Linked DNA regions of Homo sapiens. The protein of the gene in region 3 purifies or fractionates together with the protein of the main gene of each other region. This does not show direct contact. Each region holds a gene or a part of one and is shown on either strand. Other genes may lie near its edges. The genes, in order: CYP51A1, SPECC1 and PCDHGB5.

Region 1 (3,753 bases), on a different chromosome or scaffold from region 3:
TGAGATCAAATTCATATAAACGAAGCATAGTGGACCAAATTGTCTTAATTTGAACATAGGCAAAATTTTCCCCAATACAACGATGACGCCCTAAAAAAAAGAAAAAGTTATAAGAATCAGTTTAAATTCTTTCTCATCCTTTTTAGCCTGGGGTGATATTATCTACATTTTAGATGAACAGCAAATGTACAGATAATATAATAAAAAGATGACATTCTTTTCACATAAAACAACATGAATTATTAAAAATTCCAGGAGATTTTCAATACCACATTTTAGGAAAACAGTACTTGACTGATCACATAACTTTTCCAATTACTTTTTCTGAAAATATATATCTGGGTTAAATATATGGAAAGTTTGAATCATAAGATGGTAATCTAGTTTGGGAATATAGTAGAATATTCTGTTTGTCCCAAGAAAGCCCTAGTTAAAAGTCAATATGAAAACCTTCCAATCAAACCTCAAATGTCATTATAAATGTATGGAAGAAAATGAGATTTAATGAACCCAAAATAATATACTAAAAAGTCACACCCATGTAGAAACTGACAAGCTGATTCTAAAATGCATATAAAAATGCAAAGGACCTAGGATATCCAAAGCAATCTTGGAAAAAGAACTGAGTTGGAGGACATAAAACTGATTTCAAATCTGACTTCAAGACTAAAGATAAAACAGAGTGGTACTAGGTAAGGATCAACAAATAGATCAATGGAACAGAGCAGAGAGCCCAGAACAGAATATTTTTATGGTTATTTGATTATCAGTACAGACACCAAAGCAAGCCAATGAGGAAAAGCAAGTCTTTTCAACATAAGGTCCAGGAATAACTAGATATTACATGGGGGAAAAATGAAATTCAACTCCTATGTCACACCATAATCAAATACTAATTCAAGAAGGGTCACAAACCATGATGCTAACAGCATAAATTTCAGTAGAGAAGAACAGGAGAATATCTTCATGACTCAGGGGCTAAGCAAAAATTTTAAGACAGGGCCAGAAAGCAATAACCATTTAAAAGATTGATACATTGGACTAAACTAAAGGTTATTCATTTGTCAAAACTCAATGAATGTTGACTTAAGATTTGGGCATTTCATTGCAAGATTTTTCATCAAAAGAAAAAACCTAAACTGATAGTGCTTAGCACAGTGCTTGCTTGGCCCATAACTGTACTTATTTCTAGGAGTGACATTTAAGATGAGCATTTACAAATTGGTCCATATTTCAAATATAACAACTAAAGAGAAGCTTGGCTTACAGGAAGAATAGTCCAAGGATTTAATCGCAACAAGCAAGAAGTATCCTAATTGAATCAACATAAGAGTAGATAAATTCTGATGATTCACAAAATGTAATATTATGAAAATGAATGAACTATATGCACCAACATAAATAAACAGCACAATTACGAGGTAAAAGAATGAGTAAAGAAATTAGAGACATGTAATGTGATATTTAACAAGATTAACGTAAGATCATATATCCCCCCATAAATTCAAGTCCATCCAGAACCTTAGAATGTGATCTTAATTGGGAAATAGGATCTTTATATACACAATTATTTAAGATGAGATGACCCTGACTTAGGGTAGGACTTAGATCCAATGACTGGTGTCCTTATAAGAATGCCATGTTAAGATACAGAGACATGAACAAGAAGAAAGCCTGTTGAAGACAGGGGTAGTAATTGGAACAATGTAGTTACAAGCCAAGGGTTGCCAAGAGCCACCAGAAGCTAGGAAGATGCAAGGAAGGATTCTCCTGTAGAACCTTAAGGAGGAGCACGGTCCTGCCAATACCTTGATTTCACACTTCCAGCCTCCAAAACTGTGATAGAATATATTTCTATTGTTTTAAGCCACCCATATTGTAATTAGTTACAGAAGCCCTAGGAAACTAACACAAAGATTGAAAAAAAGATGGAGGAGACATTATATCTGTACTCAAATACCTCATACAATATAAGTTCAGAGACTATGGTTAGGACCAACTATAAATGAGATGTTAAAAAGAAACAGATTTCAGCTTTAACATAAGGCTCTAAAAATGACAGCTGTCCAAACATAGAATGAGCCATCATAAAAGGTAACTGAACAACCCACAACCCATTTCTAGTAAAGTTCAAGTGGAAACCAGATAATTACTAGTTTAGAAACGATTCCTCTTTGGGGCAGAATTTGGGCTACAGAACTAATGCTCTTCCCATCTGTTAACAATCTGATTCTTTGGCCAGGTGGCATGGCTCACGCCTGTAATCCCAGCACTGTGGGAGGCCAAGGTGGGCAGATTGCTTCAAGCCTGGAATTCGAGACCAGCCTGGCCAACATGGCAAAACCCAGTCTCTACTAAAAGCTCAAAAATTAGCTGAGCGTGGTGGTACACACCTGTAATCCCAGCTACTCAGGAGGCTAAGGCACGAGAATTACTTGAACCCAGAGGTGGAGGTTGCAGTGAGCTGAGAGATTGTGCCACTGCACTCCAGACTGGGTGACAGAGCAAGACTCTCTCAAAAAAAAAACTATGATTCTTTTATATATTGTGTTATACACCACAGTATTAAATTTATTACATAAAGTTAAGATCTGAAGTTCCCAAAGGACTTTATATTTTCCTTTATATGTGGAAAAAGTGTGACCAATGACAAGTCATCTGTCATTTAAATGATCCCTTTGGAAAGACTAAAGCATAGAATATAGTTTAATCAGTACAGAGAACCAATGGACAGAGAAATTACTGGAGAAACAAGGGTATAGCTAAATTATTTTAGGATCTTACTGGAAATGAAATTTGCAAGCCTACACACAACCTGCCCAAATTTAAAGACCATTTTCTCATACGGATATTCAGAGAGCAAAAATGTTGACTAACGATCGAGAAGAGCTTTAATTTTAAAAGACTGCCTTTGCTTTTTTGTGAAATGCTAGTAATCTGTTATTCCCTGAATGGTGTGCTGACTCCAATGGTTCTTTAAAAGAGAATCCACAAAGAGCTTTAAATACCATTGTAAGGGAAAACAAGGATGTTCTATAAAAATTAGACCTAATAAAACCAGACAGGTTAGGAAGTAGTGAAGCATTATATAAGGATTTATGGAACAATTCCATTTGGTACAAAGGAAATATTTTTCTCCAACTTATAAAGATTCTTCTCCTAAAAAAGTTTGCAAAAATGTCCCTATGAGGAAAGGGAGAGATAATTTGTAAACACAATTCGGAATATTTTGACAGAGACAAATATGTTATCAGAACAAACATTTCCAATCTAAAATATAATCATCTTACCAGCTCCAAATGGCACATAGGCAAACTTTTCCCCTGATGCTGGGTTATCCTGTAAGTAGCGATCAGGATTAAAGTCCAGGCGTTCTACCCATGAGTCTTTAAGTCTTTGATTGACAGTGGGAGAAACACACACCTGATGTCCTGGAGGAATGGTATACCCTGCCACAGTCTATAAACAAAAGCCACACATTTCATTAGAGAATTTAAAAATGTGCTGACAAATAATCAGATCATTGTGTAATAAAGCATGAATATACATGGGATACTCAGATGCTCCTTGACTTATGATAGGTTTACATCCTGATAAATCCATCATAAAGTCAAAAAATTATAAGTTGAATCACATAAATCAAGAACCATCTGTACATATATTTAAAAACTGGCTAGATAATAGGCAAACTAAAAATTATTTTAACTCAAGATGATTTCCAGTGAGCCAGCGTTGGGTTGGAAGTACACAGTA
Region 2 (3,753 bases), on a different chromosome or scaffold from region 3:
CAAAAGTAAAATAAAAATAAGCCAAAAAATCACCAAACTGTATTAAATAACAAACAAACAAAAAAACACATTAAGTAGTAACAATGCTGGTAAAATAAATGGTTGCATTTGAAATTGGTTCAAGGCTTTTGTGATAATCCCACTCAGTAATTTATCTTGAGGGACTAGTTCGACAGAAGGAAACAATACTGCACAAAGATGCTGATTGCAGAGTCTGTGGTGGTCACGAGGTGAGCGTACACTGGATGCCATGTCCCTTGTGGACAGCAGTTTCCCTGGTGAGTGCACATTCACTAGAATGGCAGCCCGCACAGTGGCACAGCAGCACGGGGACCCGGGTGTGAAATGCTCAGCCCACGTAATGGCACAGCCCACGTAATAGCGCGTGCAGTGTGCTGGGAGTCTGGGGAATTAGAGGTGGATTCAAATGTAATTTAGAAACTTGGAAATCATTTTAATAGTGAAATTATGGGTGATTTTTGCTTTTTAAAACTTGTTTAAATGCTGTCATATGGTTAAAAGATAAAAGCAGTGGGAGGTCATGTTTTCCGTTTTTGGAAAGGGACAGTATCTCCTGAATAAGTGGGAGGAAAAGTCCTTTAACTCATCGCTTTCAGCACCACCTGTGCTGGCCTTCACGTTCTGTCTGTGTAAGTGGAGGGTTTCCAGGCAGTGTAAGCCCTAACCTGGACTGAAGTCCTTGAGGGGAAGGGGTCTGTGATGTCCTGCCTTGTGATCTGTCCCCCATTCCCTTCCCCTGCAGGAACTCAGCGAGATGCTGTACACAGACCGGCCCGACTGGCAGAGTGTGATGCAGTACGTGGCCCAAATCTACAAGTACTTTGAGACGTAACCCTGGAGGGCCTGGGGCAGCCACCATTGCCACCTACTGCAGCTTTTCCTGGAAGCGCCTGATTACTGTCCACTGACCCTGCTCTGCCCACCACCCAGCTGCCTAGACTTCAAAGACAGGCTCAATCCAAGTGGACCAACACCCAAATAAGAAACAGAGTGGGTCCCACGATGTACCTGTCTGAAATGCAAATGCAGCTGGACTGTAAATTGGGGACTCTTTGATCTCTTGTGGGATGCTTCTAAAGAGGGCAGCCTCCCTCCTTCCAGACCAAGACCCCACACCCAGGCTTGTTTTGCTGATTATATTGGGTGGCTGAACGAACACATTATCTGCAGAAATTCAGACAAAGAACATCTCCAAATCAGTCTTTTGGTTGCTGTTGTTAAAAATATCCCGGCTTTGCCTTTATGAAACCTTTGCCCTTGGCTGGGTGTGGTAGCTCGTGGCTGTAATCCCAGCACTTTAGGAAGCCAAGGCAGTAGGATCGTTTGAGCCCAGGAGTTCGAGGCTGCAGTGAGCTATGAGCATACCACTGCACTCCAGCCTGTGTGAAAGAGCCAGACCCTGTCTCAAAAAAATGATAAAACCCAAAACTTTGCCCTTGTGAACCCTCCCTTCCCCCCTCCCCCCCCAAAAAAAAACAACAAAACACAAAAAATAAACATTTGTTCCAGGGCAACCTGGAAACGTGCGTGCGCACTCAGCCTTTTGGGGAAAAATGGGAGTTCTAGGTAACAATGTTAACACCTGGAACTTGATTCACTTTTAGCTCTCACCATCCCTTATTTGATTTATTGTAGCAAAAGGAAAGCCTGTGAGAATGCAAGGGAGCCCCTGGCTGCTTTGCTGGAGTCCCTGGGAGGTGCCCCACACCTCTGCCACCAAAGTCTGTGTGCTCCTGAGCAGCTCGCGGCTTTCACAGTAGGGAAACCGCAGTCCTCGTCACCTGCGCCTTTGTCCTCCCATTCGTTTACCCTCCCGTTCACATCCACACAGGCTTGTACCCCACAGAACTTGACAGGAGGTCACATGTGTGAATGGCCTGTGTCTGCTTTACAGGGTTGAGCAGGCTGAGGGTGTGTGCCTCTGGGGATGCTGGGCTGACAGCAAATCCCAACAGTATTTCGGCTCTGGACTGATTTGGCCTTTAGTGCTTCCCCAGGCCTCTTTCATCGGCATGGGAAAAGCCCTTAGGGGTGGGCGGTGAGGGCACATTTATAACTAACAAAGAAGAATGCAGTTGCCCCAGCATCCTACTGGTCACCTTAAGTGGCAGCAGAGCCCTCCCCAGCGGTGCCCCAGTCCCTCAGAAGTGCTCAGTCCGGCCCGAGTGCCCATCTGGTGGCTCTGCCGTGTTCTTCTGGGCGGATCTGTGTGCACTACACAGCGAGTGAGGGCGTGGCTCACACAGTTGTTTGAGGGAAATGGGTAATGCCCATCCCTTGCTGTTTTAAGTGCCAAATAGCGTGTTAGCGCCCCTCCAACAAAGGATCATCCTTCCAGTGAGTCACCGAGAATGACAGTGACTGCCATTACTATTCAAAGTACATCTCTGATTGCTGATCTGAGCCACTGGTTCAGAGCCAGGTTCTAGAGGCTGCAGGTCCAGCCCCTTACCATTCCTGGAGAGGTAGGAGCTCAGTCCCTTCCTCCAAGCCAGACCTTTGCAGAGGTGGCAACTGGGCTGCACGGGTCAGCAGATCCCTGATTCTCAAGCCACCTTGAGACAAGAACTCCGCCCCCCTGTTAGTGCATCCCAGCTGCAGCTCTGCATCAGAACCTACAGTGGACCCTTTTGAAAACACTCTTGGCTGCCCTAGTTGGTTAACTTCAGAATGTCTGGAATGGGACCAGAGATGCAGTTCACATGTTTTGTAAGTTCTTTAGGCGACTGAAGCACAGCTGCTTGGAGAACCACTGAGGGGTGGACACCTTCCCCTGGCAGCCACAAGGCAGGCAGCCTGCGGGAGCTCCTGAGCAGCTGTTGGGCGATGGTCATTACATCACCCATGCCTTTGTATTTAAATGAAACTCGACACATAGAACCAATTCAACCTGAAAGTTACTACTTCTGCTGATTCAGGCACTTGTTTGAAGCATTTTTTTTTTATTAACCCTGTACTTCTTCTTTGCCCACCATTAAAGTGGGGGAAAGTAATATCCCAAGTAGTTGAGTTGAGCTGTTGGTTGTTAGATTTAAGCTGGAATTAGTCCAGGGTTTTATGTGGGGAGGCAGTTGCTGTCTTGGGATACCCGGAGTGGGAGTGGGTGTTTTCTGTGATTGGTTCTGTTTTTTATTTTTACTTATTTATTTTGAGATGGAGTTTCATCCTTATTGCCCAGGCTGGAGGGCAATAGCACCGTCTCAGCTCACTGCAACCTCCGCCGCCCGTGTTTAAGCGATTCTCCTGCCTCAGCCTCCCATGTGGCTGGGATTACAGGTGCCCATCACCACACCCAGCTAATGTTTTTGTATTTTTAGTAAAGAGGGGGTTTCACCATGTTGGCCCGGCTGGTCTCGAACTCCTGATGGCAAGGTGATCTGCCTGCCTCAGCCTCCCAAAGTGCTGGGATTACAGGCATGAGCCACTGAGCCCGGCTGTTTTTTTGTGTTTTTTTTGTTGTTGTTTGTTTGTTTTTTTTTTTGAGACAGAGTCTTGCTCTGTCGCCCAGGCTGGAGTGCCAGTGGCGCGATTTCAGCTCACTCAGGAGTGAGCCACCACACCTGGCCTGTGATTGGCTCTATTTTGAGTGATTACGTGTAAATCATCTAGAACCAGCTCTGAGCAATGGCGTTGCGGTGTCCCTCCCTCCCCGCTGGGGCCATACCAGCCCCTCTCCACTGGGAGCCCAAGTTGCCAATGACTGTGGCCAAACTCCCCCATTTTTGTCTGTAT
Region 3 (3,753 bases):
AAAGAAACTGCTAGTAGATGTCTTTCTTCACTGATTTCACTGGTAGTTTTCATCTCTTTCTTATGTTCCTCATATATGCTTTCTTATTCCTACCTAATGGATTTATGATTTTTTGAATCTCCTAAAATTTTATTAAAAATACTATATGTTGGCTGGGTGCAGTGGCTCATGCCTGTAATCCCAGCACTTTGGGAGGCCGAGGCGGTTGGATCACATGGTCAGGAGTTCAAGACCAGCCTGGGCAATATGGTGAAAACCCGTCTCTACTAAAAATACAAAAATTAGCTGGGTGTGGTGGCGGGCGCCTGTAATCCCAGCTACTCAGGAGGCTAAGACAGGAGAATTGCTTGAACCTGGCAGGTGGAGGTTGCGGTGAGCCGAGATCACTCCATTGCATTCCAGCCTGGGCAACAAGAGCAAAACTCCATCTCAAAAAAAAGGAAGGAGAAGGAGAGGAAGAAGAAGAAAAATACTACATGTTATGTGTATGAGAGAGAAAGAGAGAGACTGATTCACTGAACTTAGAAGGTCCAAATCATCCAAATAATTTTCTAAGTTTATCCAGGTTTTCTTGGATGCAAAATCCTTTTCCACCTCTATATAATTACCAGAAGAAACTTACAAAAAAAAGGAAATGCTATTGCCTGAATTTCTCTTGCTCGGAATCCTGACATATTCTTGAAGAAGGGGAAAAAGACACCGGATTTGTCTTATCGTTTGGAGCTTTAAATATAAATGACTGGATGTTTTCTCAACATCCTTGTAGGATGGAAGGTGAATACAGGATTATTCCATTTTTAAGACAAAAACTACTAGTCTTGTGTACATACAAAGCTCCCATTACATGGTATAAGTCTTTTGCTTGGTTTCCCTTAGTATGTGATTCAGTAAATGGGTTCCTTACAAAGTGCTGAGATTTCTTATAATACCACTTACTTTTAACCTTTCAGTAGTTTTCTTTGTTGTATATTTTGTGTTCTTTTTCCCAAATTATTATATAAGTTTAAGTGATGCTTAGAATAATGTTTAAGACCACTTTAAAATTGCATAATTTATTGATGAAGGATTAAAATAGAAACTTGCTTTTCAGTGTATATGCATTTGAATCATTGAAACACAGTCTGTGCATGCATTACATATTCACATTAAAAAACTAAGCATTTTTGAAATAGCAGAAAAGTTTAAGCAATTACAAAAATGTGAAAATTTCCAACTTTAATCCTGTTAATATTTAGCAATATTAGGCGAGAACATCTGTAACTATTGCTGAATTAATATTACTTTTATAATACAAAAATTTAAAATAAACGTTTTTCCAGGAATTTTATCATCAAAATAAACCCCAGAAAATAATTTCAAAGTGGATAATCTATCCTTATATATGTATTAATACAATTATATATTTTACATTTACAAATATATAGGTATAAAAATTAAAAATGAATGTACTTCCAAACAAGATTGCACATAAAAATTACTTCAGAAAATTGTTAAGATACACAGAAAAAATTGAAGCATCATAAAAAGGAAATTATAATAGTTTACATATCTAGAAATAGAGTGCAAAGTTCTACCAAGAATAAGAATAAATTAATATTAAGCAATGGTTTGTGATTTTATAATACACTTACAGAAATTTTATTCCACTTTATTTACAACTCAGATATCTAAAAAATAGATTGCTTTTGAAATACAAATGCAAGAAACAATTGGAGAAATCTAAAATCATAATTAGAAGAGAGTAGTGTTTTCTTTATCAGCCATCTGATATAATGTTACACATCAGTGGGTGTAGTAACGGCTTAGGACTCTGAGCGCCGCTGTTGATCAACTCTAAGCGAAAATCAGGACTCCATCCGGATTTCCAGTTCTGCGGCTACACAAAACCCGGCAGATACCACAAACCTGCTCCCAGGCTGCAGCAAAACTCAGCCTCTTTCTTCTAAGGAAAAGATCACCATACTTTGCAGGGTGGAAGAAAGAACCTGATGAAGCAGCGCGCACAGAGATCCTTTTGAGAAAATTCCAAAGCGAGGCAGCAATGGCAGCTCCAACCAAATGCCAGCTCCGCGGAAGATTAGTCCTGCTATGCTCGCTCCTGGGGATGCTATGGGAGGCCAGGGCCAGTCAGATTCGCTACTCAGTGCCTGAAGAGACAGAAAAGGGCTATATTGTGGGCAACATCTCCAAGGACCTGGCTCTGGAGCCCCGGGAGCTGGCGGAGCGCCGAGTCCGCATCGTCTCTAGAGGTAGGACGCAGCTTTTCTCTCTGAACCCGCGCAGCGGCACCTTGGTCACCGCGGGTAGGATAGACCGGGAGGAGCTCTGTGCTCAGAGCCCGCGGTGTCTGGTGAACTTTAAAGTCCTGGTTGAAGACAGAGTGAAACTGTACGGAATAGAAATAGAAGTAACTGATATTAACGACAGCGCCCCAAAGTTCCAGGCCGAAAGTCTGGAAGTAAAAATTAACGAAATCGCGGTTCCTGGAGCACGTTATCCACTTCCAGAAGCTATTGATCCGGATGTTGGCGTGAACTCCCTCCAGAGCTACCAGCTCAGCCCCAATCACCACTTCTCCCTGAACGTGCAGACTGGAGACAATGGAGCCATAAACCCAGAGCTGGTGCTGGAGCGCGCCCTGGACAGGGAGGAGGCAACTGCCCACCACCTGGTCCTCACGGCCTCGGATGGCGGCGAGCCGCGTCGCTCCAGCACAGTGCGCATCCATGTGACAGTGTTGGATACAAATGATAATGCCCCGGTTTTTGCTCAACGGATTTACCGAGTTAAAGTCCTTGAGAACGTGCCCCCAGGCACCTGGCTGCTTACTGCAACAGCCAGCGACCTGGATGAGGGAATCAACGGAAAAGTGGCATACAAATTCTGGAAAATTAATGAAAAACAATCTCTGCTATTCCAGCTTAATGAAAATACTGGGGAAATATCAACAGCAAAAAGTCTAGATTATGAAGAATGTTCATTTTATGAAATGGAAATACAAGCTGAAGATGGTGGGGGATTGAAAGGGTGGACAAAAGTGCTCATTTCGGTGGAAGATGTAAATGACAATAGACCTGAAGTGACCATTACATCTCTGTTTAGCCCAGTGAGAGAAGACGCACCTCAGGGAACAGTAATTCTTCTTTTCAATGCTCATGACCGAGACTCCGGGAAGAATGGTCAAGTTGTCTGTTCTATCCAGGAGAATCTATCTTTTACATTAGAAAATTCAGAAGAAGATTATTACAGATTGTTGACGGCCCAAATTCTTGACCGAGAAAAAGCCTCAGAATATAATATCACGGTGACTGCAACAGACAGAGGAACTCCGCCCCTGTCCACAGAAATTCACATCACCCTGCAAGTGACTGACATCAATGATAATCCACCTGCTTTCTCTCAAGCCTCCTACTCAGTCTACCTCCCGGAAAACAACGCCAGAGGTACTTCCATCTTCTCCGTGATTGCCTATGACCCTGATAGCAATGAGAATTCTAGAGTTATTTACTCCTTGGCAGAGGATACCATCCAAGGGTCTCCTCTCTCCACCTATGTCTCTATTAACTCAGACACTGGTGTGCTGTATGCTCTGTGCTCCTTTGACTATGAGCAGTTTAGAGATTTGCAAATGCAGGTGACGGCAAGTGACAGTGGAAGCCCACCACTTAGCAGCAATGTGTCATTGAGACTGTTTGTTTTGGACCAGAATGACAATGCCCCAGAAATCCTGTACCCTGCCCTCCCCACTGATGG

What was found.
Region 1: the proteins of PCDHGB5 (region 3) and CYP51A1 purify together in Homo sapiens (co-immunoprecipitation; 2 studies listed by BioGRID and IntAct, with this or other methods). This does not show direct contact.
Region 2: the proteins of PCDHGB5 (region 3) and SPECC1 purify together in Homo sapiens (co-immunoprecipitation; 2 studies listed by BioGRID and IntAct, with this or other methods). This does not show direct contact.

Annotation. Positions count from the first base shown.
Region 1 is NC_000007.14:92,113,754-92,117,506, forward strand, and holds part of CYP51A1 (lanosterol 14-alpha demethylase), read right to left. Parts: intron 3,460-3,753; coding exon 3,291-3,459; intron 91-3,290; coding exon 1-90. UniProt on the Homo sapiens protein: Sterol 14alpha-demethylase that plays a critical role in the cholesterol biosynthesis pathway, being cholesterol the major sterol component in mammalian membranes as well as a precursor for bile acid and steroid hormone synthesis.
Region 2 is NC_000017.11:20,313,213-20,316,965, forward strand, and holds part of SPECC1 (cytospin-B), read left to right. Parts: intron 1-763; coding exon 764-853; 3' UTR 854-3,753.
Region 3 is NC_000005.10:141,400,912-141,404,664, forward strand, and holds part of PCDHGB5 (protocadherin gamma-B5 isoform 1 precursor), read left to right. Parts: intron 1-1,866; exon of another isoform or gene 1,867-2,041; coding exon of another isoform or gene 2,042-3,753. Other genes in the region: PCDHGA9 (protocadherin gamma-A9 isoform 1 precursor), read left to right, coding at 2,042-3,753. UniProt on the Homo sapiens protein: Potential calcium-dependent cell-adhesion protein. May be involved in the establishment and maintenance of specific neuronal connections in the brain.